7 linked regions of the Homo sapiens genome follow. The protein of the gene in region 7 interacts with the protein of the main gene of each other region in a biochemical or structural test. Each region holds a gene or a part of one and is shown on either strand. Other genes may lie near its edges.

Region 1 (3,250 bases), on a different chromosome or scaffold from region 7:
AGAGTATCAAAACTTTATATGTATCTGCATTTTATTATCTCACATTTAAAATTTTCCCGTTCCTTGGTATGTTTAATAATGTTTATATTAGTGGAATTGAGCATTTAAATTATCAATAAATAAAAATGCTATACCACTGCCTAAAAAATTAGATAATTAGCGAGGGAGTTTTTCAGGCAACATGGTAACTAGCAACTACCTTCCAAGTGAGAGAAATAAAAACACCAAGGAGTATGTAACATTTATTTTCCATAAAGACGTACGGGACCCTTTAAAGGCTGTATCTGGGTTTTCTTTTGGTAACAGGGTAAGTCGCTTCCAAGAACAAATGGAGAAATGTAGAAGACTGAAGACAACTTGGAGGATAAGCTAGGAGTTAGGAAAGCCTAAAAGGATACCATCTGCTGTTCCTCTCTATCTCTCTAACACACAGCTCCCATACCTAGATGAGGCCATTAAATGTCCACTGGACGAATGAAATGACAGACACTAGCAACTGTGGTTACAGGGCAAACAGAAAAGAACAGATTTTTTAGGGGAATAGAGTTCGGAAAGAGGAGGAGGCTGGAAGGGTCATGAAGTTTATAAACAGAAATACAACCTTACTTTGAGGTTAATAAAGAAGAGAACACAAAATTTTAAAGAGTTGTACAGGCTGTGGGGTGTCATCAGATGAATGCCCTGACAGAGGCCCTTTGATTGCAGCTGAGACTCACCAACTTTGGGTGGCTGGAATGGGGAGCAAATGTAATATCACTTCTAGAGACAAAACTCTAAAATCAAGTATTTGTGCTGCCCTGCAGCCAGAATAAGCATAAATACTTTTCAAAGTTAACACTTACAGTGTGAGAGGCTCTGATTTACCCACTACTTGGAGAAAAAATAAACTTTAATTCTTCATCAATTGCCATCGATTACAATTTTGCATTATCTCACTTTTAGAAAGAGACTTCAAGCTTTCAGAGTGACCTAGCCATATTGCCTCTGCTTTTGAAAGACCTGCACCCTTATTCACGATAGCAACTCCCATACATTGAGGGTCTACTATGTGTAATGGTCTGTGTGAAGCATTTTACATTTATTATCTCATTAAGTACGGCATCACAATACGGCAGAGTCTTTTCATTTTATTATTTTTTGAGATATGGGAGATTCTGAAATAGGCTCAGAAAGTTCAGTTAGTTTGTTCAAGTTTACAGGAATTATAAGTGGAAGAGATAAGAAAAGCTACGTCTGATTCCAAAACCTTATTCTTAAGAGTGCTGGAACCATCATCTATAATAGCAAATGCATAAGAAGCTAGCATCTATTCTGAGTATATTCATTTCCTAAACATTCACAATCCAGCTGGCTTTTTTTCTTTCTCTATTTTCTCTTTCTTTTCCTTTTTCCTCACTTTTACCCTTTCTCTCTCACTTTCTTTGAGTTTTAGCATGTTTTATTTTAATAAGTAACCAATGTAACAATCATCTATATCTATTCTCTAGTCAGAACTATTAAAGAAGACGAATCTCATTTGTAGTATTGTGGACTATCACCTAGTTTAAATGTTGACAATGTAACTGCGTCTCCTCTGTCTTTTAGATATGCCTCACTGCCTTTTATGCAACAACAAAACTCACTGGGCCCCTGTTAGGAGCACTATGTGCTTTGAAAAGGAAGTGGAATATCTCAACTGGAATGACTCCTTGGCCATCCTACTCCTGATTCTCTCCCTACTGGGAATCATATTTGTTCTGGTTGTTGGCATAATATTTACAAGAAACCTGAACACACCTGTTGTGAAATCATCCGGGGGATTAAGAGTCTGCTATGTGATCCTTCTCTGTCATTTCCTCAATTTTGCCAGCACGAGCTTTTTCATTGGAGAACCACAAGACTTCACATGTAAAACCAGGCAGACAATGTTTGGAGTGAGCTTTACTCTTTGCATCTCCTGCATTTTGACGAAGTCTCTGAAAATTTTGCTAGCCTTCAGCTTTGATCCCAAATTACAGAAATTTCTGAAGTGCCTCTATAGACCGATCCTTATTATCTTCACTTGCACGGGCATCCAGGTTGTCATTTGCACACTCTGGCTAATCTTTGCAGCACCTACTGTAGAGGTGAATGTCTCCTTGCCCAGAGTCATCATCCTGGAGTGTGAGGAGGGATCCATACTTGCATTTGGCACCATGCTGGGCTACATTGCCATCCTGGCCTTCATTTGCTTCATATTTGCTTTCAAAGGCAAATATGAGAATTACAATGAAGCCAAATTCATTACATTTGGCATGCTCATTTACTTCATAGCTTGGATCACATTCATCCCTATCTATGCTACCACATTTGGCAAATATGTACCAGCTGTGGAGATTATTGTCATATTAATATCTAACTATGGAATCCTGTATTGCACATTCATCCCCAAATGCTATGTTATTATTTGTAAGCAAGAGATTAACACAAAGTCTGCCTTTCTCAAGATGATCTACAGTTATTCTTCCCATAGTGTGAGCAGCATTGCCCTGAGTCCTGCTTCACTGGACTCCATGAGCGGCAATGTCACAATGACCAATCCCAGCTCTAGTGGCAAGTCTGCAACCTGGCAGAAAAGCAAAGATCTTCAGGCACAAGCATTTGCACACATATGCAGGGAAAATGCCACAAGTGTATCTAAAACTTTGCCTCGAAAAAGAATGTCAAGTATATGAATAAGCCTTAGGAGATGCCACATTCCAGAATAAAATGTTTCCAGGGTCTTTGCATCTAAGATATAAATTTACTTTCCCAGCAAATATGTCATATATATTTCCTTGCCACCATCTTTACCAAGTTTTAGTTGAACAGTCACTCTGTTCAATCACCTATTTAACAAATAGAATTGAGCCTTCAGCCTGAAGCTCCCTTCATTTCCTACCTTTTTCATTGGTCTCCATCTTTACCTGCTTCCTCTTAGGCACATCGTTAAAGACTTCTCTTCTAATCAAAGTTGTCCCGTAATGTGTCATCCTTACTCCATTCCCGACACCCTCTTCTCAAATCTCTTTGGATTCTCCTCTCTTGAGCATTTTTACTTTTCTTCCACTGTTCAGTGTAGTTGAACAAGCACTTGAGCAATTACTATGAACCAGTTGATATGCTAAATAACAAGGTACAAAAGCAGCAAGGTGTCTTTGATGATCTCAAGGAGCTCAAAATCCAAGGAGAAACAGGCACATATCAACATCTTCAATCAGTGTGAGGAAGTCTATGATTATAATGTATATAG
Region 2 (3,500 bases), on a different chromosome or scaffold from region 7:
ATCCTGGCTAACATGGTGAAACCCTGTCTCTACTAAAAATACAAAAAATTAGCATGTTGTGGTGGCACGTGCCTGTAGTCCCAGCTAATTGGGAGTGTGAGGCAGGAGGAGACTCGCTTGAACTGAGAGGCGGAGGTTGCAGTGAGCCGAGATCACACCACTGCACTCCAGCCTGGGCGACAGAGCAAGGCTCTGTATTAAAAAAAAAAAAAAACACTTAAAAATTTGCCAGGTGCAGTGGCGTGTGCCTGTGGTCCCAGCTATTCAGGACGCTGAGGTGGGAGAATCAGTTTACTATCACTTTACTCCAGCCCAGGCAGAAACAGAGCAAGACCCTGTATCAAAAAAAAGAAAAAAAAAAGAAATGTGCATAAAATATAGATTGTTCAATAAATGGTGGTATTGGGACAATAAAAAGTATCTGGGAAAAATAACTTTGAATCTCTGTATCACTTCTTATTCAACAATAAATTTGAGATAAATCAACATGAAATACTGAAAAATAAACTATATTATTATTATTTTCTTTTTTGAGATGGAGTCTCACTCTTGTCCAGGCTGGAGTGCCATGGCACAATCTCGTCTCACAGCAACTTCCACCTCCCAGGTTCAAGCAATTCTCCTACCTCAGCCTCCCAAGTAGCTGGGATTACAGGCACCCACCAGCACGCCCAGCTAATTTTTTTTTTTTCCGAGATGGAGTCTCACTCTCTCACCCAAGCTGGAATGTAGTGGCTCACTGCAACCTCCCCCTCCCAGGTTCAAGTGATTCTCCTGCCTCAGCCTCCCGAGTAGCTAGGATTACACGTGCCTGCCACCATACCTGGCTAATTTTGTGTATTTTTAGTAAAGACAGGGTTTAGTAAAGACAGGGTTTCACCCTGTTAGCCAGGCTGGTCTCAAACTCCTGACCTTGTGATCCGCCCGCCTCGGCCTCCCAAAGCGCTGGGATTACGGGTGTGAGCCACCATGCCCGGCCATTCTTGCCTCTTTGAGACTCACTTTTCAAAACTGCTGTTGTTAGATGATCCTTATAAACATGTTGCTGAGGGAAAGAAGCCAAACGCAAAGTAATCAAATCTACATGACTCCATTTATATACTTTTAAAAGGAGCTTCACTGATCCATGGTGTTAAGAGGTCAGGATAGAGGTTACCTATGGGGAGTAGGGAGGAGGCAGAGATTGAGGCAGGTCCCAAGGGTTGCTTCTGGGTTGCTGTTAATGCTGTTTCTTAATCTGGATGCTGGTTCTTTGGATCTGTTTGTGAAAATCCTTTTTGATCCAGAGTCTCTCTCTTTTTTTTTTTGAGACAGAAAATCCCAAAGCGCTGGGATTATAGGCGTGAGCCACCATGCCTGGCCTCTTTTTTTTTTTTTTTTTTTTGAGATGGAGTCTCGCTCTGTCACCCAGGCTGGAGTGCACTGGTGCCATCTCAGTTCACTGCAACCTCCGCCTCCAGGGTTCAAGTGATTCTCCTGCCTTAGCCTCCCAAGTAGCTGGGATTACAGGTGCCTGCCACCACTCCTGGCTAGTTTTTGTATTTTTTAGTAGAGATGGGGTTTCACCATGTTGGCCAGGCTGGTCTTGAACCCCTGACCTCAGGTGATCCACCCGCCTCAGCCTCACAAAGTGCTGGGATTACAGGCATCAGCCACCGCCCCCAACCGATAGTGAAGGTCTTTTCAATCAATAATTCCCAGATGTTATCTCACAGGTAATCACTACCTGCAGTGAAAGCTAATCACAGCAGGAAAGATTCTGAAAGCTACTTGCCTGGAAGTTTTTCAGGTTTCATGATCTACATGGGAACCAGAATTTGGAGTACCAGCAACAGGTTTTTCAGGATATTTGCTTTCAGAAGCAGCCACCCTATTCCCCTGCCCTCAGCCAGAAGCAGCACAATACCTGTGGGCCCTCCCAGTCTCCCCACACTCCTCACTAGCACATGTGTGGTTCCTGCGCCTCCTGCTGCATCTCCCATGAACTTGCTCTAAAAGCTTTTTTGTTGTTTTGTTTTGTTTCTGAGACAGTCTTAATCTGTCACCCAGGCCGAAGTTTAGTGGCAAGATCTCAGCTTACTGCAACCTCCTCCTCCCAGGTTTAAGTGATTCTCATGCCTCAGTCACCCAGTAGCTGAGATGACAAACCTGCGCCACCAAGCCTGGCTAAACTTTTTTGAATTTTTAGTTGAGATGGGGTTTCATGTTGCCCAGGCTGGTCTCGAACTCCCGGCCTGAAGTGATCCACCCGCCTCAGCCTCCCAAAGTGCTGGGATTACAAGCTGGGTATGGTGTCTCACCCCTGTTATCACAGCACTTTGGGAGGCTAAGGCAGGCAGATCACTTGAAATCAGGAGTTCGAGACCAGCCTGGCCAACATGGCGAAACCCTGTCTCTACAAAAAAATACAAAAAATAGCCGGACACAGTGGCTCGTGCCTGTAGTCCCAACTACTCGGGAAGCCAAGACAAGAGACTTGATTAAACCTGGGAGACAGAGGTTACAGTGAGCCGAGATCACACCACTGCACTCTAGCCTGGGCGACAGAGAGAGACTCGAGACTCCGTCTCAAAAAAAAAAAAAAATACACGCCACTGTGCCCAGCTGAATATTTGCATTTTCAAAAGATCAATGGTGATTATCTCTAGGTGGTGGGAGTATAGGTAACTGGCACCTTTTATTATTTTTTGCATTTTTATTTTTATTTTATTTTTGAGATGGAGTCTCGCCTGTCACCTAGGCTGCCGGGATCTCGACTCACTGCAACCTCCGCCTCCTGAGTTCAAGCAATTCTCCTGCCTCAGTGTCCTGAGTAGCTGGGATTACAGACACGCGCCACCATGCCCAGCTAATTTTTGTATTTTTAGTAAAGACGGGGTGTCACCATGTTGGTCAGACTAGTCTTGAACTTCTGACCTCGTGATCCACACACCCAGGTCTCCCAAAGTGCTGGGATTACAGGCGTGAGCCACTGCGCCCAGCCGATTTTTTGCATTTTTCTAACTGCCCACGGTGACTCTGTATTATCTTCAGTATAATAAGATTCATTGGGATCCTGTATCTAATTACAAAAGCATTTTGTGCTCAATGCAGAAAACTTGGAAAGCACAAAGAAGAACGTCCCCTTAACCCCATCATTTAAAGGTAACAGCTGTTGCCAGGTGCGGTGGCTCACGCCTGTAATCCCAACACTTTGGGAGGCTGAGGCAGGCGGATCACGAGGTCAGGAGATTGAGATCATCCTGGCTAATACGGTGAAACCCTATCTCTACTAAAAATACAAAAAATTAGCCGGGCGTGGTGGCAGGCACCTGTAGTCCCAGCTACTCGGGAGGCTGAGGCAGGAGAATGGCGTGAACCTGGGAGGCAGAGCTTGCAGTGAGCTCAGATCGCGCAATTGCACTCCAGCCTGGGCGACAGAGTGAGACTCGGTCTCAAAAAAAAAAAAAAAAAGATAACAGCTGTTAACATTTTGGCATATGTCTTTCCAGACTTTTCTC
Region 3 (3,500 bases), on a different chromosome or scaffold from region 7:
ACAGCCCTGTGAAGTGACCTCAGTGAGATATTTGGTACCATGGTGTAAGCTGATAGCACAAGTTCTGGCGACAGGTAGCACGTATCTGAGAGACACCTGCAAGCACACACTGTCCCAGCTGGTACCCATAATGCTGCTGTTCCTGCTGCTGCTCCTGCTTTCCTCTCTTCTCGCTTTAAATGATTGTTAGCAAGTTAGATTTTCCTGGAGCTTCGGAAGAAATGAAAATGGAAACATGATGAAGATATAGTCACTGAATCAATGAGAAAAATAATGAACATATGAATACCACCTAAAAATACACTGAATAAAGTACACCATATAGCATTATTTTTATAGGAAATATTTCATGTCCCTTAAATATTCTTTGTTAGTTATAGGGATGGACAGTTTATGTTAAGCACTTAGCTTAAACAATCCGTTTATATTAGCACTGTATCCCTTGTGCCATCCAACATTTTGTATGTTTTTGTAAACAGTTCATATACAGTACATTTCTGTACTGCTTTCTTTAATGTATACATGCCTTGTTTAACTTGGAATCTATTATTATTAATCAATTGACTATTAAATCTGGTTAAATAGTTCACCTGGATTAACAGTATTGTTGGACAGTCCTAAAAATGGCCAGATTGTGGAACAGCTGTTGAATGTAATACTTCCAAAATGTACATATCTTTCCCCACGTCTGTTTCACTGGTTCGTTCATTTGTTTGTTTCTTAAAGTCAGGTGCTCTGTCAGACTAACCTAGAGAGCTGTTATGGTAGAGAAAGTTATCATATGTGTGTGGCATGAAATCAAGAATACACCTATGAAGTTAGTCCATATACTTTGCAACTCCTTAGAGTACTTTTTTCCTTAATTAAGGAAGTAGTCCTTGCACTTCTAATCTTACATAGCATCCATACTTAGAATTTGGCATATCATCTGGGATTTTGCCAATATACGTCAAAGCCCTTTAAGAGTCATGGTAAGGAGATGGGTGAAGGAAAATTTAGCAACAGGTAATTGAAGTCCTATTGGATATTTCATGTTTAAATAGATATTCTATATTAAACACTAATTTAAATGTAATAAAGGCCAAAGGCCTCTGTATGAAATTGGATTTAAACTTTCTTATTTTAGGGAATAAAACATTATTGATCAAACAGTATCTGTTCTAACCTAAAATTATAGGTAGGGCAGGCTAAGTGAACAGCATTGAGTATTTTCTGAATCCCTCATGATAATTTATAGCCACATACTGCTTCCTTTGACTTCAGGAATGATCAGTTTTCATAATGGCCACTGGGCCTGCTTAGATTGCAGTATTCATTATCTGCATCTAATTTGGTAGTTTCCACAATCGTATTTGATGAAAGAAACTTCAGTCCCCATTATTACCTGTGTCTTTGCCAAGCTGCCTAGCATACATCAGTATGTAATGTAAAAGACATATGAGCAAGAAAAAAGTGATTTAACTTACCTCATCAAGAATGTGCCCCTACAGGCCGGGCGCAGTGGCTCACGCCTGTAATCCCAGCATTTTGGGAGGCCGAGGCAGGTGGATCACCTGAGGTCAGGAGTTTGAGACCAGCCTGGCCAACATGGTGAAACCCCGTCTCTACTAAAAAATACAAAAATTAGCTGGGCATGGTGGCGTGCACCTGTAATCCTAGCTACTCAGGAGGCTGAGGCAGGAGAATCGCTTGAACCTGGGAGGTGGTGGTTGCAGTGAGCCAAGATCACACCATTGCACTCCAGCCTGGGTGACAGAGTGAGACTCTGTCTCAAGAAGGAAAAAAAAAAAAAAGAATGTACTCATACAGATTTTTGTTAGTCATCATGTAATAAGCCATTTATATCAGAAACCTTTTTTCCTGCCACAGAAGCTTTAAATTTTCCCCTAAGAGTACAAAGCCAAGAGAGTGTGGTTTATCTAAATGTCCTGAAATCCACTTGTCATTCCTTAATTTCTCCTCTATGCAATTAAAGAGAAAGGGGAAATCTATAACATTTCTTTTGCCCAAGTGACACAAAAATGATTACTGCATAGAAATCAAATGTAAGTTTAGCTTCTAAATGAAATAATATATAGGAGGGATATCAGAATGTCTAGATAGAGAAAGTATTTTCAAATTCTTGAATATATGGATGCTATTAAAAGCTGCTTTCCATTGCCTGGAAAGAGAGCTTTTTTCCCTCCTCTATTCAGTGTTTCAAACTTTGGTCATCTCAAATTATTGTCACTTTTAAAATGTTAATGTCATTCTGAGCAGAAATAGATATATTTTCAGATTTTTTTACACTGATGCTACTCCGTAATTGCTTAGGAGTATTGTCCATCATAGTATTTTAGAACTAGAAGTAAACACATAAATCCTTATAAATTACCCAATCCAACTTTCTCATATTGCATGTAGAGAACCTGAGACACATATCAAAGTCTAGAATCCTTAACTTCTCCCCATTTTGTTTTTTTCCGCCTCATCACACCATGCTGCCTTTCCCTCATATGATCACCAACCAGTAGCTGAGTTCAAAAACTACATATTTCTTGGGCAGTCCTCTACTGGTATGTGATGCCAACTTTTATTTCTTTCGAAGATAATTGCCTTCTTTGCCTAGCCAAGCAGCCAATTTTATTGGAGAAAAGCAAGTTATATGTTCACAAAATGGAAGGCTTTCTACCTAAATTTATTTCATCTGTGGTCCTCTTATTCTCTTCCATTGCTTTTGACATACAGTGGAAAAACTTGGCCAACGATGTGCTCTAAATATAGTGCTTGTGTTGGGTTAACTTTTCCATTAATTTCTCAACATCAATTATTCAGGCCCCTACAGTTGTGGTATTGAGGCCCCTAAAGGCTTCTGCCTTTCACCAATTAGTGCTGCCAGTTACTGAGGCTTCTCCCAAAAGGTATCAGTCCAGTCTTAAAGATATTTCATTGTGAAAGAAGAAACTAAACTATCAGGCCTCTTTTACAAAATGAGAGATTGAATTTAAGCTTGTCAAGCACGTACTGGAAGGTATGAATTACACTACCATGTGTTTTGTATCTTCCCTTTCAAGTGATGATGTTAAATGAAGGTAAGTTTTTCATCCTTTTTTAATTTTTGTTTTTTATAAATCATTTCAGCTTTTTCTGGTTTATAGAGGTGTCTTATTTCTAATGCAACAGACCCCCAACTTTAACAGATTTGATATGGATGCATTTATTCACAAGCAACCCCAAAAGTCCAAAAATGTAATAATTTTGACAAGGCCCAAAGTTGAGATGCTATGAAGCTTGTGTGTGTGAAAAGTCAGTTATGATTGTCTGGAGAGAAGCTGTGGTGTGTATGCTGTAGAGTTTCCACATTTCACATGCAGTGTACTCCAAAAAGCGGGTTTGGGTCAACCATTTCCCATCTCTTTTTAAGAAGTGACTGCTGTTGGGGCCAGGGGACATCATGGGAGGTGGGGCTGTCCAGTTAGCTGTGCCCTGCACCTTCAGCCCAGGAAAGATTTGAACAGAGC
Region 4 (3,500 bases), on a different chromosome or scaffold from region 7:
CCATTACTATTATAGCCATTGTAAAAACTAGTATATAAATTTAAAACTCCAGCTATAATGAAATTATAAATTTGAATGATTAAAAGATGGCATTTCAACTTTATTAGTTCTTTTCCTCTTCAAATCAATTTCAGATGAGTGCCTAAAGGGCAATATTATAGTTATGCTAGCAGCTATATTACTTAAATAAACCTTACCTATCCTTTTCCCTGAAATCAAAAGTTTCCCATTAAAAATAAACTTTAAAAAGCAGACCTTCCCAAAGCTTCTTCCAAACTGATGATGGCTGCTTGCAGTTGATTTTGACTGACTGCTTCAAGAGACAGGCTCAGACGAGAGGACTCAGTGACGAGTGGTGGCAGCCGTGCTTTGCTGGAGTGGCCTAACAAGTAGATAGTTGCCACAGTTTGAAATTCTGCTGAACAGCTTGCTGCTGCCCAGGACCATTCACTAGTCAACATTTTCAGATCCAGTTAATTGTTAAATTGGAAAGCCTTGGGAGAATTTAGCATTACCAGAAAGACCATAGCCTACGTGCATCACTTCAAAGCATGGCAAGAACTTGTTCCTGGCTAGGTAGGCATAAGAGGCATAAGATGCAGACCATGTAGGCGAATATGGGAAGAGGAGGCAGGTAATATATTTGAAACCAACAGTTACCAAGAAGAAAAGTTAGTAGAGGGATAAATGAATTAGTCTTCAAACCCTTCACAATGTGAAAATAAATGTAGTGGGCCATAACATCCCTAGGGTTGTAGCATTCATTACCTGAGCAAGACAGGGCATGGAAGAATGAAACAAAGCACATGACACTTGAGATATTATCAACAAAAATTTCCAGAGTTAGTTATTCTCAAATTTCTATCATGCATTCATTTAAGCTTTAGGGAAAGTAATTCACTTACCAATTGCTGTTAAAATAAATAAAAGTGTGGCAACAGCTGATGTTCCATAAAACATGGTGCTGATATTACAAGCCAGGAGATTTGTGTCATTCTGTGTGTTGGGTACTAAAACTGGTGGTAGCAAAAAGCCAACTGCAGTTCCAAGCTGAAAAACACATAGTCCTGTTAACAGCTATTATCATTAGAGAAAAAAGTAAATGCTGGCAATTAACAGAACATAAAGAGGACAGCTAGTGTTTATAAAGGTGCTTTGAAAATTAAACTATTATGTTCTTTTTTTTTTTTTTGAGACAAAGTCTGTCTCCCAGGCTGGAGTGCAGTGACGCAATCTTGGCTCACTGCAACCTCTCCCTCCCAGGTTCAAGCAATTCTCCTGCCTCAGCCTCCTGAGTAGCTGGGATTACAGGCGCGCGCCACAACGCCCAGCTAATTTTTGTATTTTAGTACAGACGGGGTTTCACCATGTTGGTCAGGCTGGTGTCGAACTCCTGACCTCATGATCCGCCCGCCTCGGCCTCCCAAAGTGCTGGGATTACAGGCGTGAGCCACTGCACCCAGCCTAAACTACTATGCTCTAATGTCTTTTTTACTATTGTATTGTTAAAGGGAAATTGCTCACCAATATCTCTCCTATCCAAAAAACATTTACTGAGTTCCTACCATCTGAGTGATGCTGCTATTATAAAGCTGTGTAATATACAGTCCTTGCCCTGCAGATGCTTACAAAAGGGGAATAAGAATATGCAAAATAAGGCTGACAAAAGATGACCTACAGAATCAGAAAAATTTGTAAATTATATATCTGATCAGGGTATAGCTTCCAGAATATATAAAGAACTATTACAGCTCAACAACAAAAAAGCAATATCCCAATTTTAAAATGGGCAAAAGACTTGAATAGACATTTCTCCAAAGAAGATATACAAATGGTCAATAAGCATTTGAAAACATGCCCGAATCAAAACCATAAGATACCACTCCACACCAGGTAGCATGGCTACTATAATAACAATAATAGCAATATAAAAGTGTTGGCAAGAATGTGGAAAAATTGGAACCCTTGAATACGGCTGGTGGGACTATAAAATGGTGCAGCCACTGCAGACAAGTTTGGCAGTTCCTTAATAAGTTTAACATAGAATTACCATATGACCTAGCAATTCTACTCCTAGGTATATGTCCCCAAAACTGAAAACAGAAATTCAAACAAATAATTACATATGAATGTTCACAGCAGCCCTATTCACATTACCACAATAACCAAAAGGTGAAAATAACCCAAACATTTATCAACAGATAAATGGATAAACAAAATGTGGTATATTCATACAATGAAATATTATTCAGCTATTAAAAAGGAATGAAGTACTGATACAGTGCTACAACATGGATGAACTTTGCAAATAAGCTAAGTGAAAGAAGCCAGACACAAAAGGTCACCTACTGTATGATTCCATTTATATGAAATATCCAGAACAGGTCAATCCACAGAAAGAGAAGGGAAACTAGTACTTGCCACAGGCTAGGGGAGGGGGCAATGGTGGGGAAGTGACTGTTTAGTAGGTATTGGGCCTTCTTTGCGGGTGGATAAAAATGTTTTGAAACTAGACAGAAGTAACAGTTGCACAACACTGTAAATGTACTAAACGCCACTGAATTGTACACATTAAAATGGTTAGTTTTATTTATGTGAATTTTACCTCAACAAAAAATATGGCTAAATATCATAATCACAAGAAATAAAATCAAACTATTAGGAGGTTCAATGGAGGAAGGTTTTTAGGAGGAAGATTTTTAGGAGGAAGGGCGTGAGGAGGAAGGGCCCAAGAAAGGAGTCTGAGGCAGAGATAGTCACACTTATCAAATATTTCATTTGCTCCCTTACAAAAAGCTAGATAGAGGCCAGGCGCGGTGGCTCACACCTGTAATCCCAGCACTTTGGGAGGCCGAGGTGGGGGGATCACGAGGTCAGGAGATCGAGACCATCCTGGCTAACATGGTGAAACCCAGTCTCTACTAAAAAATACAAAAAATTAGCCGGGTGTGGAGGCGGGTGCCTGTAGTCCCAGCTACACGGGAGGCTGAGGCAGGAGAATGGCATGAACCCGGGAGGCAGAGCTTGCAGTGAGCCAAGATCGCGCCACTGCACTCCAGCCTGGGGGACAGAGCAAGACTCCATCTCAAAATAAATAAATAAATAAATAAAAATAAAACAAAAAGCTAGATAGAAAGAATATAACTGGTAATTACAAGAGAGGGTGGTAATACAGTACTGTGATTGAGACGTAAACAGTGCCAAGACTGGGGAGACCACGTAATTTACTATCCATCTAGAATACTCTTCAGAATGAAAGGGACTTCATTAGTAATCATACCAGACAACAGGTGTACCACCTGGACTATCCCAAGCAAACTGGGACATATGATCATGGTAGCTAAGAGAGTACTTTGGGGGAGCACCTTATATAGAAATATTATTCAGCTATCAAAAAGAATGAAAAGAAATGGGGTTCAGAAAAAGTTCCTGGAGGAGCAAAGATCTGAATAAGAAATTGGAGTTAGTCAAGTGAAGAAATATTCCAAGCCAACAGGACA
Region 5 (3,500 bases), on a different chromosome or scaffold from region 7:
GTTTCACCATGTTGACCAGGATGGTCTTGATCTCTTGACCTCGTGATCTGCCTGCCTCAGCCTCCCAAAGTGCTGGGATTACAAGCATGAGCCACCGCGCCTGGCCTACCCTTTTGAAATAAATAGTATATCAAAGGTAAAAATTTAAGGCTGGGTGCAGTGGCTCACACCTGTAATCCCAGCACTTTGGGAGGCCAAGGCAAGTGGATTGCTGGGGCCCAGAAGTTCGAGACCAACCTGGGCAACATGGCACAACCCTGTCTGTACAAAAAATACAAAAATTAGCCAGGCATGGCCGGGAGCGGTGGCTCACACCTGTAATCCCAGCACTTTGGGAGGCCGAGGCGGGAGGATCACCTGAGGTCAGGAGTTCGACACCAGCCTGGACATGGTGAAATCCCATCTCTATTAAAAAAAAAAATTTAAAAATTAGCTGGTGATGGTGGCAGGCACCTGTAATCCCAGCTACTCGGGAGGTTGAGGCAGGAGAATTGCTTGAACGTGGGAGGTGAAGGTTGCAGTGAGCCAAGAATGCGCCACTGCACCCCAGTCTGGGTGACAGAGCGAGACTCCGTCTCAAAACAAACAAACAAAAAGGAAACAGTTCAGATGCAGCTGTAAAAACAAAGTTAAATCCTTGCCGTCCATTTACATCAGAATAAATACTAGTTTGTGCTATGGGCTGAACGTGTCCCCCAAAGTTCACGTGTTGGAAACTTAATTCCCAACGCAACAGTGTTGAAGGTAGGACCTCTAAGAGGTGTTTAGGTCACAAGGGCTCTGCTACATGAATGGATTAATTCCGTTACAGTGGGAGTGGATTTGTTATCTCGGGAGCAGGTTACTGATAAAAGGATGGGTTCCGCCTCCTTCAGCGCTCTCTCACGTGTGCTCCTGCCCTTCTGCCACCTCCTGGGGGATGTAGCGACAAAGAAGGCCCTCGCCAGATGTGGCCCCTCAATCCTGGACTTCCCCATCTCCAAAATTGTTAGAAATAAGTCTTTGTTTTTCAGGAATTAGCCAGTCTCAGGTATTCTGATACAGCAGCCCAAAATGGACTAAGACAGACAGATTAAATGCTGTGTACAAAACTAAAGTAAAAATACCTTCTAGAAGAAAAGACAGGTGCATCTTTATCTGGCTGCATGCTAGGGAGAGTTGACTACACAGAGAGACGGAATATCTAAAAATGGGGAAAAATCCAACACACTTCACCACAAAATATGAAACATTTTTGACATCAAAATGATCATAAACAAAAACTAAAAGGGTGAGAAAAATGTGCAGTAGGCAGAAAGAGGAGTGAAGAATTAATATCTTTAATATACAAAGACTCATACAATGGCTGAGAAACACATCAAAACCCAAGAGAAGGCCTGTCATAGGGGCCAGGCGGCCGCAGGAGACGAAGCCGCAACCCCCTGCAGGCACACGGCGGCTGATGGAGGAGGCCAGGCTGGTGCTGGTCTCTGAGAGGACACCACTGCTGGCCAGCTATGGGAAACGGCAGGGCATCTGTGTCCCCGCCAGCCCTTCTCACTCAGGCCTGGTCTCAGCACGCACCACCCCATCACACCCTCCCAGCTCCCCCTCCTAAGGGAGCCATGCTACTCATCACCATCTTGTAACCCCACAGTTGGCCACTGGTTCCTCTGTGTGTTGTGGATCTCCTCAACCAGGCTGGGAGCTCCTCAGGGGCAGGGCTGGGCCTGATGTGCCTGTGATGCCCAGGACCCAGCATGAGGCTGGGTGAGTGGGTGCTGAGTGTGGTGACACATGGGTGTTTACATCAGCCCCTGTCCCAGCTGAGCCCTGAGGCTCCCTCCCCAGCTGCCTCCCGCTGTGGACAGGACCACACCCCAGGGCCCAGCAGAGCAGGCAGCCGCAAGCCAGAGCCCAGGTTGCCCAAGCCAGAGCAGAGATGGCACAAATGCCATCACCCATCGCACCAGTGCCCAGGGCAGACATGAAAAACCAATCACCACAGCAGACAGGAATAAGCAATCACCACATTCCAGATGGGCAGGATAGGAGATGGGGAAAGGCAGAGAAAGAGGCACAGAGAGGGCCACAGAGAAACATAGAGAAGACCAAGAACTGGAGGGGGGAGGGAAAAGAAGGGACAAGAAAGGAGCAAGCAACAGGAGGGAGAGTGAGCAAGTGTGCCTGGGCAGCCTCGGACCTGCCCAGCCAACCACCCTCCTGCGGACCCTGTTACCAGGGCTGTCGTTTGGTGTCTGGCTGACCTGGCCTCCCTGAAGTGTGGTGACCTACGAGGAGTTAAGGGCAGTGGGACAGCCCCTCCTGCCACCCTGAGATGCCCTGTCACCTGTGCCACAAGCAAGCCAAGTACCCTGCCTGAGCTTCTTTGTCCCAACCCAGAAGACCCTGCATGGCCAAATGGCCTGAGCAGTGACATTCTCGGCCAGACGCTGGTCCTCCCACACAGCCAGGCGGCAGCAGACCCAGCTCCCACTAGGCTGGCCCGGCCGGCAGCTTTCCATGCCCAAGGACTTGGGAACAGGCAAGGAGTCAGTCATCCTGTCCCTCCCATCTGCCCTAGATCCCTCAGCCTAGGTCACTCAGGCATCCGGAGGCCATGGCCTTCTCCCTACCACTTAGGCACAGCACTGGCTGGGCCATGCCTCCACAATGGGCACTAATTGTCACTGAGAAACCACAGGGCTGTCAGCCATGCCTCCCACAGAGACTGCTTTTTGGGGGGACAGGCAGATGGCCAGGGTGGGGACTGGAGGAACAAGAATGGCCAGGAGCCATTCTCTTAAGCCATCACCCACTCTGCTGAACAGCACCCATCGTGGCAAAACTCTGGCAGCGTGGATGTGAGCAGGGTATGCCTTACCATCCTTCAGAGGGTCCTGGGGGACATGGACCACTCAGCCTCCAACCCTGCCATGCTTCCCAGGCGCTATGCCTCAGTCCCACTGGAGCTAGCAGCCATGATAAGCAGAGGAACCCCAAACACAGATAACACCTGAGGCCACGGGCCAGTACACATGGCCTACGGCTGTGATCAGAGTACATTCAGACTATTCAGTTATGGGCTGTCTGCAGCCATTTTCATCCTACAATGGCAGAGAACTGCAGCTGTGACAGAGACCATAAGGCCTGCAAAATTGAATTACTTACTATCAGACCTTTTCAAACAAAGTTTTGTGTGCCTGGCCTCCAGGACTATCCTCTGTCCCTGTGGCTCCAGTCTCTGGGGGGCAAGCGAATGGCCTGGCCCAGCAGGCTGTGCCAATACTGGATGCCACTGCGGCTGGCATCCTAGCTCAGGCAGGTGAAGAGCAGACCCAGTGAATGTCCAAACCAACACTGACCAGCAACCTCGTCAGCCAGCCCCAAACAGGCTTGTCCCTAAAGCCAGACATCAAACCAGTGGCTGCTGCCCATATTCAGGCCAGTAACAAACCCAAGCTGGTGGCAGGAGGCCCTCACATCCACCCTGTCCAGCCCAGGGGCTGTGCCTACCCAGG
Region 6 (4,245 bases), on a different chromosome or scaffold from region 7:
CCTAAGAGTGAAATATTTTCTTTAAACTTCCCACGTGTGTCCCGTGTATCTACATTTACAGGAAGGGAAGATACACGATTTGTTACATCAGCTCAGCAGCAGTTCATTTTCGCTATCTGCAAAGAAATTAGATTATATTTTTACATAACCATAGTGATGAGCTTTGTTTTCAAGTTTATTCTAGTCTGCTTGTACAACACATAGTATTAACAGTTTTTATATGTCTGTCGACAGAGAAAAAGAAATAAGTCATAAGCAAATACATATTTGAAATGCAGTTGTTGTGAAATAAACATCTTCTGTCCCTCATATTAAAAAGGTATTTAGGAACAGAAAGTTTTAGCATACTCATCACATTTTAAAAATGTGTACCAAAGAAAAATGATAGTTTTAGATTTTCATGCTACTTTTTGTCTTGTGATGACCTCTCCTGGTTGAGTTGCTCATTATCTTAGATTCATGTAGTTTCCATCTTTTTCTCCTTTGAATGTTTTATATTAAGAATATAACTATCATACTTTTCTTCAGAGCTATATATAATGTAAATAAAAATGTTCATTAATGTAAAGTACAGTTGATATTTAAAGTACTGAATCCATGAAACTCATTCTAATCAATAAAGTTCTGTAGCATCCTTATTATTTAATTCATTTCCAGGATATAGGGCAACTTTGCATTTTGGTCACACAGTTTAAATTCAAACGAAATAAAAAGCCACCTTAATTAAGCCATTACACATTTTTAAACAATAGAGAATGAAAGCCAAGTTAATAAAAAATCTTAATGGCCATAACTATTAACCATCTTAAAAGTAATTGTTTCTATGTTCTCTGTCTTCAAATTCTAACTATAAAGTTGAAAACTCAGAAAATATTTATGAAATAACAACTTTTTTATCTTAAAATGCATTAACCCAAGGGCTGCCAGTGTTCCATTTGCTACTCATGGCAGATGTTTCAGATGGACCCATCAAAATTAAAGTATACAGAATGATGGAACACAGAACCCAGGAAAAACCCTGGATATGAGGACCTTCAATCAGTGAATATAATAAATTTAATATATGAGGAGTTTATTTTCCAGGAAAAGTGGCAGGAAATTCTATACAACCAGACCTTGAAATGGAAACAGAAATTTCATCAAACTAGTTTCCCAGTGATAGAGTTACATATTTGTGTAAATATCAACAGCAAGCATTATATCCCCAAAATTTGTTTAAATTTATAAAATTGACATAAATATTAACAATATTTAACTCTTTGTGATTTAACTTGTGTTATAAAAAATGCTATACAATGTTTTCAAGTTCATTACAAACTTAGATTGCCAGTTAGTTTATCTCCTTATCTTTACACATTGTGGGAAAAGAAAAGCTAATACTGTACTTAGGAAGATATGTCAAAACAGTAATACTGGCTCATAACCGGATATTATATAGTAGATTCCTTATTACAACTTATAATGTCCTTTTTCAATGCTATTCCTGTTGATATTTACCACTACAATAAGATCATTATTAACAAAGATGCATTAATACATCCCAAAATCTTAGAAACAAAGACTACTTCGCATATGACGAATTCTGGAAAATATTAAACTTTTCTTTTCCTAAATGGACAAAAAAATCTTCCTTTTAAACTCTGAAATCTCCACGATAATTCTTTATCAACTTACTCATTCTCAGAAACTAGTATGCGCTTATGAATATTATCCTAAGATTCCTATAGGCAGTCTTTCTAGTGTTTAACTCTTTCTGAACCAAAGGAACAATCATGCATTTCCTCTCTACATGCACAGTATGCACTTCTAAAGGAATGCAGAAAATGGGCCAGAATCTTCCATTTCTTTCTAAACCTCATGAAAACAGGGGCAGTCTTAAACACACACACACACAAACACACACACACAGTTGATTAAAATGCAGAGATATACATATTGAATATAATTATTTTCCTGAAAACCCTATTAAGAATCTGTTTATTACTACATTAACGACGCTTTGCACTGAGTGTCCCAAGTACCGTACTGCATCAGTCATATCCATGATATCAAAGTATCAAAGAATTAAAGCAATTTCAGTTACAATTTCGCTGCCTTCCATTTTAATAAGCAAGTACTAAATGGGCATTAACTTTTTAAGGGAACGGGAGAGGTTAAAGAGACCCTATAGGTGCCCAAACTGTTTAAAACATGCTCCTCTTGTTAACCTCAACCCCGTGCTCATTAAGTTATAACCATAAATAAAAATAAGAAACTTGGTTTTGCCATGGTCTTCACTTTTCATTCACTGACCTACCTAAGCCAAATGCAGTTAACTCTCCCTGCACAAACAACTCCTAAGAAGCTGCCATCTACATCAGTCTCTCTAGCCAAGCTCTTGCCAACCGATCACCAAGACCAGGAACAACTTTCCAGAAACATCACCAGCGTCACAACCCTGTCTCTTCCAAAACAGAAACGCTGGGTTTCGAGTTTGTCTACTGCAGTGGCTGCAAGTGTGTGACAGCGGAGACACAAACACATCAGGGTGCCAGCACTGCGATGCACTTCGGAGTTGATACCCTGGTGCCAAACATCAATGCCGCACTGAAACTGCTCCAGAGCAGAGCGAGGAGACGGCTACTTACGGGACGTGGAGGGAGCCGTCCAGGCTCTGCAGAGGCAGCTGCTGACAATCCACAGCAGGAGCGCTGCCCCGCAGCCGGCGCGCGGAGCCGCCTGCATCCTTCGCCTCCCGGCCGGCGGCGCTCCAAGAGCTCGCTGCGGAGATGCAGTCCGACTCTCCGTAGGGTTCTTGAAGGGAGATGGGCTGTCCTCAAATACGCGAGGAAGCCAAGCCCCTCCCGCTTCCTCTTCTCCCCTCACCCCCCTCCAGGCTCCAGTTCTTCCGGGCTTGGAGCGGCAGGGGAGTCTCAGCCTTCGTTCTCCCTCCGTGCGGGTATTGCCTCTTGCACTGTGTGCCAGTGCAACGCCGGGGGAGGAAATTCAAACCAAGAAGGCAAAGGAGGGGGAAGAGGGGAGGGAACGGACACCTACCCCGCCCTCTCCTTCTTGAAAAAAAAAAATCACCAAAGGACGGGGGAGGGAGGTAATCAGAAGAGCAGAGGCTGCAGAAGAGGAAGGCAGAGCGACGGGGACGGTGGTGCAGCTGTTGCCACTGCGGGCGAGCGCTCCCTCCGCCGCCGGGCAGCGTGACTCGAGGGGTTTCCACTCGCCTGTCAGCTCACATGGAGAGCTTGTGTATGTGGGGAGCGCGCAGCGCAGCCGGGGCGCACGCACGGCCTCAGCGCTGCGCCGCGCGAGGAAGCATCTCCCGGGCGGCGGAGCGCGAGCAGCAGCAACAGCCGCGGAGAGCAGGAGACGCCGCCGCCGCCGCCGCCGCCGCCAGCTCCTGTGAGCCCGGGCGGCGAGCGAGGCGGAGGGAAGCCCTCCCTTCTCTTCCCTTCTCGGTTCCCTCCTCGGCTCCTCCTCCTCCTCCGCCTCCTCCTCCTCTTCCTCCTCCTTACCGTACCCCTCTGGCTGTCAAAACCCTTCTGCCCTGCCCTGGCCTCGTTTGAAAGCAAAAGGGAGACTGAGCCGACCGGCCGGGGTCCATCAGCTGGGGCGGGGGCGGAGCAAGGAGGCGCGCGCCTCTCCCTGGGCGGGAGGTGATGCTGTCCGCGGTGCTGAAGTTGGGGATTTGCCGTGTAATCCTAGAACCCTGCTCCAAACCTGGCTGCCCCCTACCCGGCTGCAGGAAGGAGAACACCCTCGCTCGGATGCCTTCTCCTTTCCTTCTCTCCTCCCCTTCAGATAAAGATGGTACAGGCTCCTGGAGCTCCGGCCCCCCGGGAACCACAGTCAGGCGTCCGACAGGCAGGTCTTCCGAGTGGTCCTAACACCAAGTGACGGTGCTAAACATCCCGACTGACTGGAGCAGGGAGGGAGGACTGCAGATGCCGTTAATGCACATGTTTTCGATATGTAATTAATTCGTACTCATACATATGCACACGTACACCAAACACACGCTGCTGCCAGGAGAAACTACACTTAGGCAAACACGCATACAAACACAAACACAAAACGGAAATACATAAGCAGGCATATGGGTAACTATTTCAAGGTACCTGAGGCATTGCAAGCACTAAGAATTAAGAATGTTTAGAGAGACCTAGATTTTTTCACATTTAGATAATTTTAATAATAATTATCAAGCTCTTCTCCCCAGCTCACAGCTCTTCACACTCTACCCTCCATATGTTT
Region 7 (3,500 bases):
CAGAGACCTGCACAGGACCCGAGAGCCCTGTCGCCACCAGAGCCCACGGAGCCAGGTGGGGAAATGGGGCCTGGTGGGGAGGGGAGGCAGAGAGTGCAGGTGGGAGGCTGCTGGCCATCTCCAGGGCGCCGTTCACACTGTGGGCGGTGTGCAGCCCTGCCACTGTAGCCCGGTGCACGGGGACCTTGGACAGCCAGCTTTCGGCAGGGCGACACGCAGAGTCCACTCCCTGTGGAGGCCTTGGGTGCCCGGCCTCTCCCCAGCCCTGTCTCATTTCCCACGGCAAGCCTGGTCCTTTCCCAGGCACCACAGATGTGCTGCTGGAGGCCAGGAAGGGTGAGGGACTGCTCTGAGGTCACATGGTCAGGAAGTGACCCGGCTGGGCCTGGCCTGGGTCTGGCTGGCTTTGCAGGCTATGCTCTGTGGGCCTCCTGGCTTTTCCTCTGCAAGGGGTGGCAGGGCCCCTGAGGCTGGGAGTCGGGTCAGGCCTGGGCCCCCGGCTCCATCAGGCTCAGCCTCCATGGAGTATTCCAGCAGCGTAGCCGGCTTCTGCCCTCCCGAGGTCCCAGCCAGAAGTTGCTGGGTGCCGGTCACACTTAGTGGTGTGCCAGGCGCTGCCGGGCATTTCTGGGAGGAAGTCCTGCCTGATGAGGGCAGCCTCCTGTGGGCTGAGGTTCCTTGTGCTCTCCTCTCCCCTCCCCATGTCAGCTCCTCCGCCTTCTCCCACCCTCTAGGCAGGAAGGTCTCCTTGGTCCCTTCTCGCCACCCTCCCCCCCGCACCCCCGCCCCAGTAAGCTCATCTGCCATGAAGTCCTCCCCAGGTGCTGGGACTTCGGGCCCTATCTCCAGCCCCCGGGTCTCTCCTGAGTTAGAGTCACGTGGAGATGCCTGCTGAGCCGCCTCGGGCTCTACTCTTCCCAGCCCCACTGAAAGGAGCACCACGATGTTCAGTGGGGAGCCTCGATCCCCTCCGTCCCTCCGCCCCTCATTCCCCTCTTCCCCTCACTCCCCTCAATGCCTGCTGCACTGTCACAGTGGCTCATCAGTTTGGGACTTGGTGTGGGGGTACCTTTCCTGGGCCTGCCCATTGCAGCCCAGCTGTGTGGATGGGGGCCCTTACTCCTCTCCACCCCTCATTCCTCTCTGCCTCTCACTCCCCTCCACCCCTCATTCTCCTGTGCACCGGGAGTCCCCTCAGCTCATCCACAAAACATCTCCTGGGGCGCTCTGACTTCCCCCTCCATCCTCCCTTCCATCACTTCTCACACAGCAGCCAGGATCACCTTGGTCAATCTGTCCTGCCCATGACCTGCAGGCTTCCTTGCAAGGCACCCCAGCACTTACCTTGACTCACAGGGCCCTGTGCCTGCCACCTGGCCCGCATCACCCTCGGTGCCGTCTCCCACTGTCCCCTCATCCCCTGTGCTCTGGCCTCATGGCCTCACCGGTCTCTTTCCCACCTCGAGGCCTTTGCACGCAATGTGCCCACTGCCCGGCGTTTCCTTCCCTTGCCTTAGCGTGGTGGGTTCCTCATCCTGCCTTCACCCGGATGTCCCACCGCCCCTGAGCCACCTGCCCTGGCCACTGTGCCCAGGTCATCCTTCATTGCTTGGTGAGCACACCCAGGGTCTCCGGTGGGCCCTGCACACAGATGTGACTGTGGGTCAATTTCTCTGCGTGATCCCCATCTCCTCCAGGCTCGAAGCCTCGCCGGGCAGGGGCCTGGGCCAGTGCGTGGCCTCTGTAGATGACACGAAATGAGACGAGGGCCCATGTGATGTGTGAATCTCCTCTAACCCTCTGGGCCCTTCTTGCATCCCTCCAGTGACAGAGGCTCACCACTTCTCAGGGGAACCCTCGCATCTTCTCAGGTCCATGTTAAGGCATCGCAGTTGCACAGAGTGGATAAATGTCCATCCACGGGATGGTAAAAGCAGGGATAAATGCGTTTCTGAGGGCCTGTGTGGAGAAGGGTTTCCCTTTGCGCGTAACCAGAGCTCTGAGGCCATGCAGCCTCTCCTCTGGCTGCAGATAAACAGGCCTTGGAGCCTGCCATGCGCTCAGAATGTAGAGCCCCAGAGCAGTTTACAAGGTGGCATTTAATCACCGGCTTTTATTGTGCAACCCCAAGCAGGTTCTGATGGCATCTCCCGGTTGTATTTATTGAAGAACTTGGGTTGGCTTTTGATTTGTAATCCTCTTAGCAGCTTCCTGGGGCTGCACATGCCTTGGAGTTCAGCATCTGGGACCACTCAGGCAAGATGACGCCTCCCCTCCTGCCCCGCCCACTCCCGCTGGGGCTGCAGTGCTGAGCCACAGCATCTGGCGGCACTGGAGGACTTGGAACTGCCGGCAGAGCTGCTTGGCCAAGAGCTTTCGCCAAGGCTGCCAGGAGCCAGGAGTCCAGCCGGACTGGAGCTGAGACCAGGGCGCTGTGCAGCTGCCCTTCCTGCCGGGGCTTGGCCTAGCAAATGCACCCTCACCCCATCTGCCATCCTGTGGTCTTCCCCCGACAGGCCTCTGCCCTCCCATGCAGCCCCACACAGCAGCCTGAAGGGACTTGGCGAGACCCGGACCCTCCCTGCCGAAAGCTGGGCCATGGCTCCCACGGCCTCAGGACTAAGCATAGCCTCCTGGCAGGCTCGCAGGCTTGGTGACCCCAACCACTGCCTCCTGCCCACATCACCACAGCCGCAGACCCCTGTGAAACCCCCATCCTGCATTGTGAGGGACCAATGACAATGCATGGAGCCCAGAAGAGGAAGAAACCACCTTCAGAGTGGAGAGAGGGCTAGATCAGGAGGGCTTTCTGGAGATGGGGGCGTCTAGTTGTGGAGAGGTGGGTACAAGGGGGCCTGTGCACCCTTGGCCTCCCACAGGCTCACCAGGGCCTGCCAGGTGGTCTGAACACCTTCCGCCCAGGCTTGCTTTGAGGGAGGGAGGCCACCAGGTTTCACAAGGGTGAACGGTGTGACACTGGGCACTGTTCCAGGCCCACAAAGCCTTCAACACATCATTGGGGTATTGATGTCCTGGTCCTGTATGAGAAAGGGTTCAGGGAGCTGTAGGAAGCTGCCCTCGGTCACTCAGGTAGGGATGGATGGTTCTGCCCTGAGCCCAGGTCCCCTGGTTCCCCAGCCAGTGCTCTGAATACCAGGCAGGCCCCTAGCAGCTCGAAGTGTCTGCCTTGTTTGGTTTTGATGAGGGTGTTTGTGGACTAATGGGTGGGACAGGGTTTAAAATCATAGACCGCTGTCCTTGGTGCAGCAAAGATATGGCGAGGACACGTCCATATGTTCCCCAAGCTGAAAGCCAGGTCTAGTGCAGGGGTAGCAGGTGACTCCCTGGAATTGTGCAATGTACAGCCTGCCCACCTGTGTGCATTACCCTGCTCCAGCACATAATGGGCAGAGCACCAGGACTGGGACCCAGTTCTGTCCCTCATGTCTGGCTGCTCAGGGTGGAGTCCCAGCTCTGCCCCAGAAGTCTCTGAAGCTCTT

What was found.
Region 1: the proteins of HTRA3 (region 7) and GPRC6A interact in a test that uses a peptide from one of them, tested with the Homo sapiens proteins (one large-scale study listed by IntAct).
Region 2: the proteins of HTRA3 (region 7) and TYRO3 interact in a test that uses a peptide from one of them, tested with the Homo sapiens proteins (one large-scale study listed by IntAct).
Region 3: the proteins of HTRA3 (region 7) and RPS6KA3 interact in a test that uses a peptide from one of them, tested with the Homo sapiens proteins (one large-scale study listed by IntAct).
Region 4: the proteins of HTRA3 (region 7) and FLVCR1 interact in a test that uses a peptide from one of them, tested with the Homo sapiens proteins (one large-scale study listed by IntAct).
Region 5: the proteins of HTRA3 (region 7) and ARVCF interact in a test that uses a peptide from one of them, tested with the Homo sapiens proteins (one large-scale study listed by IntAct).
Region 6: the proteins of HTRA3 (region 7) and CNTNAP2 interact in a test that uses a peptide from one of them, tested with the Homo sapiens proteins (one large-scale study listed by IntAct).

The regions. Positions count from the first base shown.
Region 1 is NC_000006.12:116,791,585-116,794,834, reverse strand, and holds the end of GPRC6A (G-protein coupled receptor family C group 6 member A isoform 1 precursor), read left to right. Parts: intron 1-306; coding exon of another isoform or gene 307-311; exon of another isoform or gene 312-619; intron 620-1,584; coding exon 1,585-2,693; 3' UTR 2,694-2,750; downstream 2,751-3,250. UniProt on the Homo sapiens protein: Receptor activated by multiple ligands, including osteocalcin (BGLAP), basic amino acids, and various cations. Activated by amino acids with a preference for basic amino acids such as L-Lys, L-Arg and L-ornithine but also by small and polar amino acids.
Region 2 is NC_000015.10:41,579,712-41,583,211, reverse strand, and holds part of TYRO3 (tyrosine-protein kinase receptor TYRO3 isoform 1 precursor), read right to left. Parts: 3' UTR 1-3,500. UniProt on the Homo sapiens protein: Receptor tyrosine kinase that transduces signals from the extracellular matrix into the cytoplasm by binding to several ligands including TULP1 or GAS6. Regulates many physiological processes including cell survival, migration and differentiation.
Region 3 is NC_000023.11:20,151,910-20,155,409, reverse strand, and holds part of RPS6KA3 (ribosomal protein S6 kinase alpha-3), read left to right. Parts: coding exon 1-12; 3' UTR 13-3,500. UniProt on the Homo sapiens protein: Serine/threonine-protein kinase that acts downstream of ERK (MAPK1/ERK2 and MAPK3/ERK1) signaling and mediates mitogenic and stress-induced activation of the transcription factors CREB1, ETV1/ER81 and NR4A1/NUR77, regulates translation through RPS6 and EIF4B phosphorylation, and mediates cellular proliferation, survival, and differentiation by modulating mTOR signaling and repressing pro-apoptotic function of BAD and DAPK1.
Region 4 is NC_000001.11:212,861,275-212,864,774, reverse strand, and holds part of FLVCR1 (choline/ethanolamine transporter FLVCR1), read right to left. Parts: intron 1,051-3,500; coding exon 906-1,050; intron 383-905; coding exon of another isoform or gene 256-382; intron 1-255.
Region 5 is NC_000022.11:20,006,824-20,010,323, forward strand, and holds part of ARVCF (splicing regulator ARVCF), read right to left. Parts: intron 1-3,500. UniProt on the Homo sapiens protein: Contributes to the regulation of alternative splicing of pre-mRNAs.
Region 6 is NC_000007.14:146,115,356-146,119,600, reverse strand, and holds the start of CNTNAP2 (contactin-associated protein-like 2 precursor), read right to left. Parts: upstream 2,801-4,245; 5' UTR 2,725-2,800; coding exon 2,628-2,724; intron 1-2,627. UniProt on the Homo sapiens protein: Required for gap junction formation. Required, with CNTNAP1, for radial and longitudinal organization of myelinated axons.
Region 7 is NC_000004.12:8,272,754-8,276,253, forward strand, and holds part of HTRA3 (serine protease HTRA3 isoform 1 precursor), read left to right. Parts: intron 1-3,500. UniProt on the Homo sapiens protein: Serine protease that cleaves beta-casein/CSN2 as well as several extracellular matrix (ECM) proteoglycans such as decorin/DCN, biglycan/BGN and fibronectin/FN1.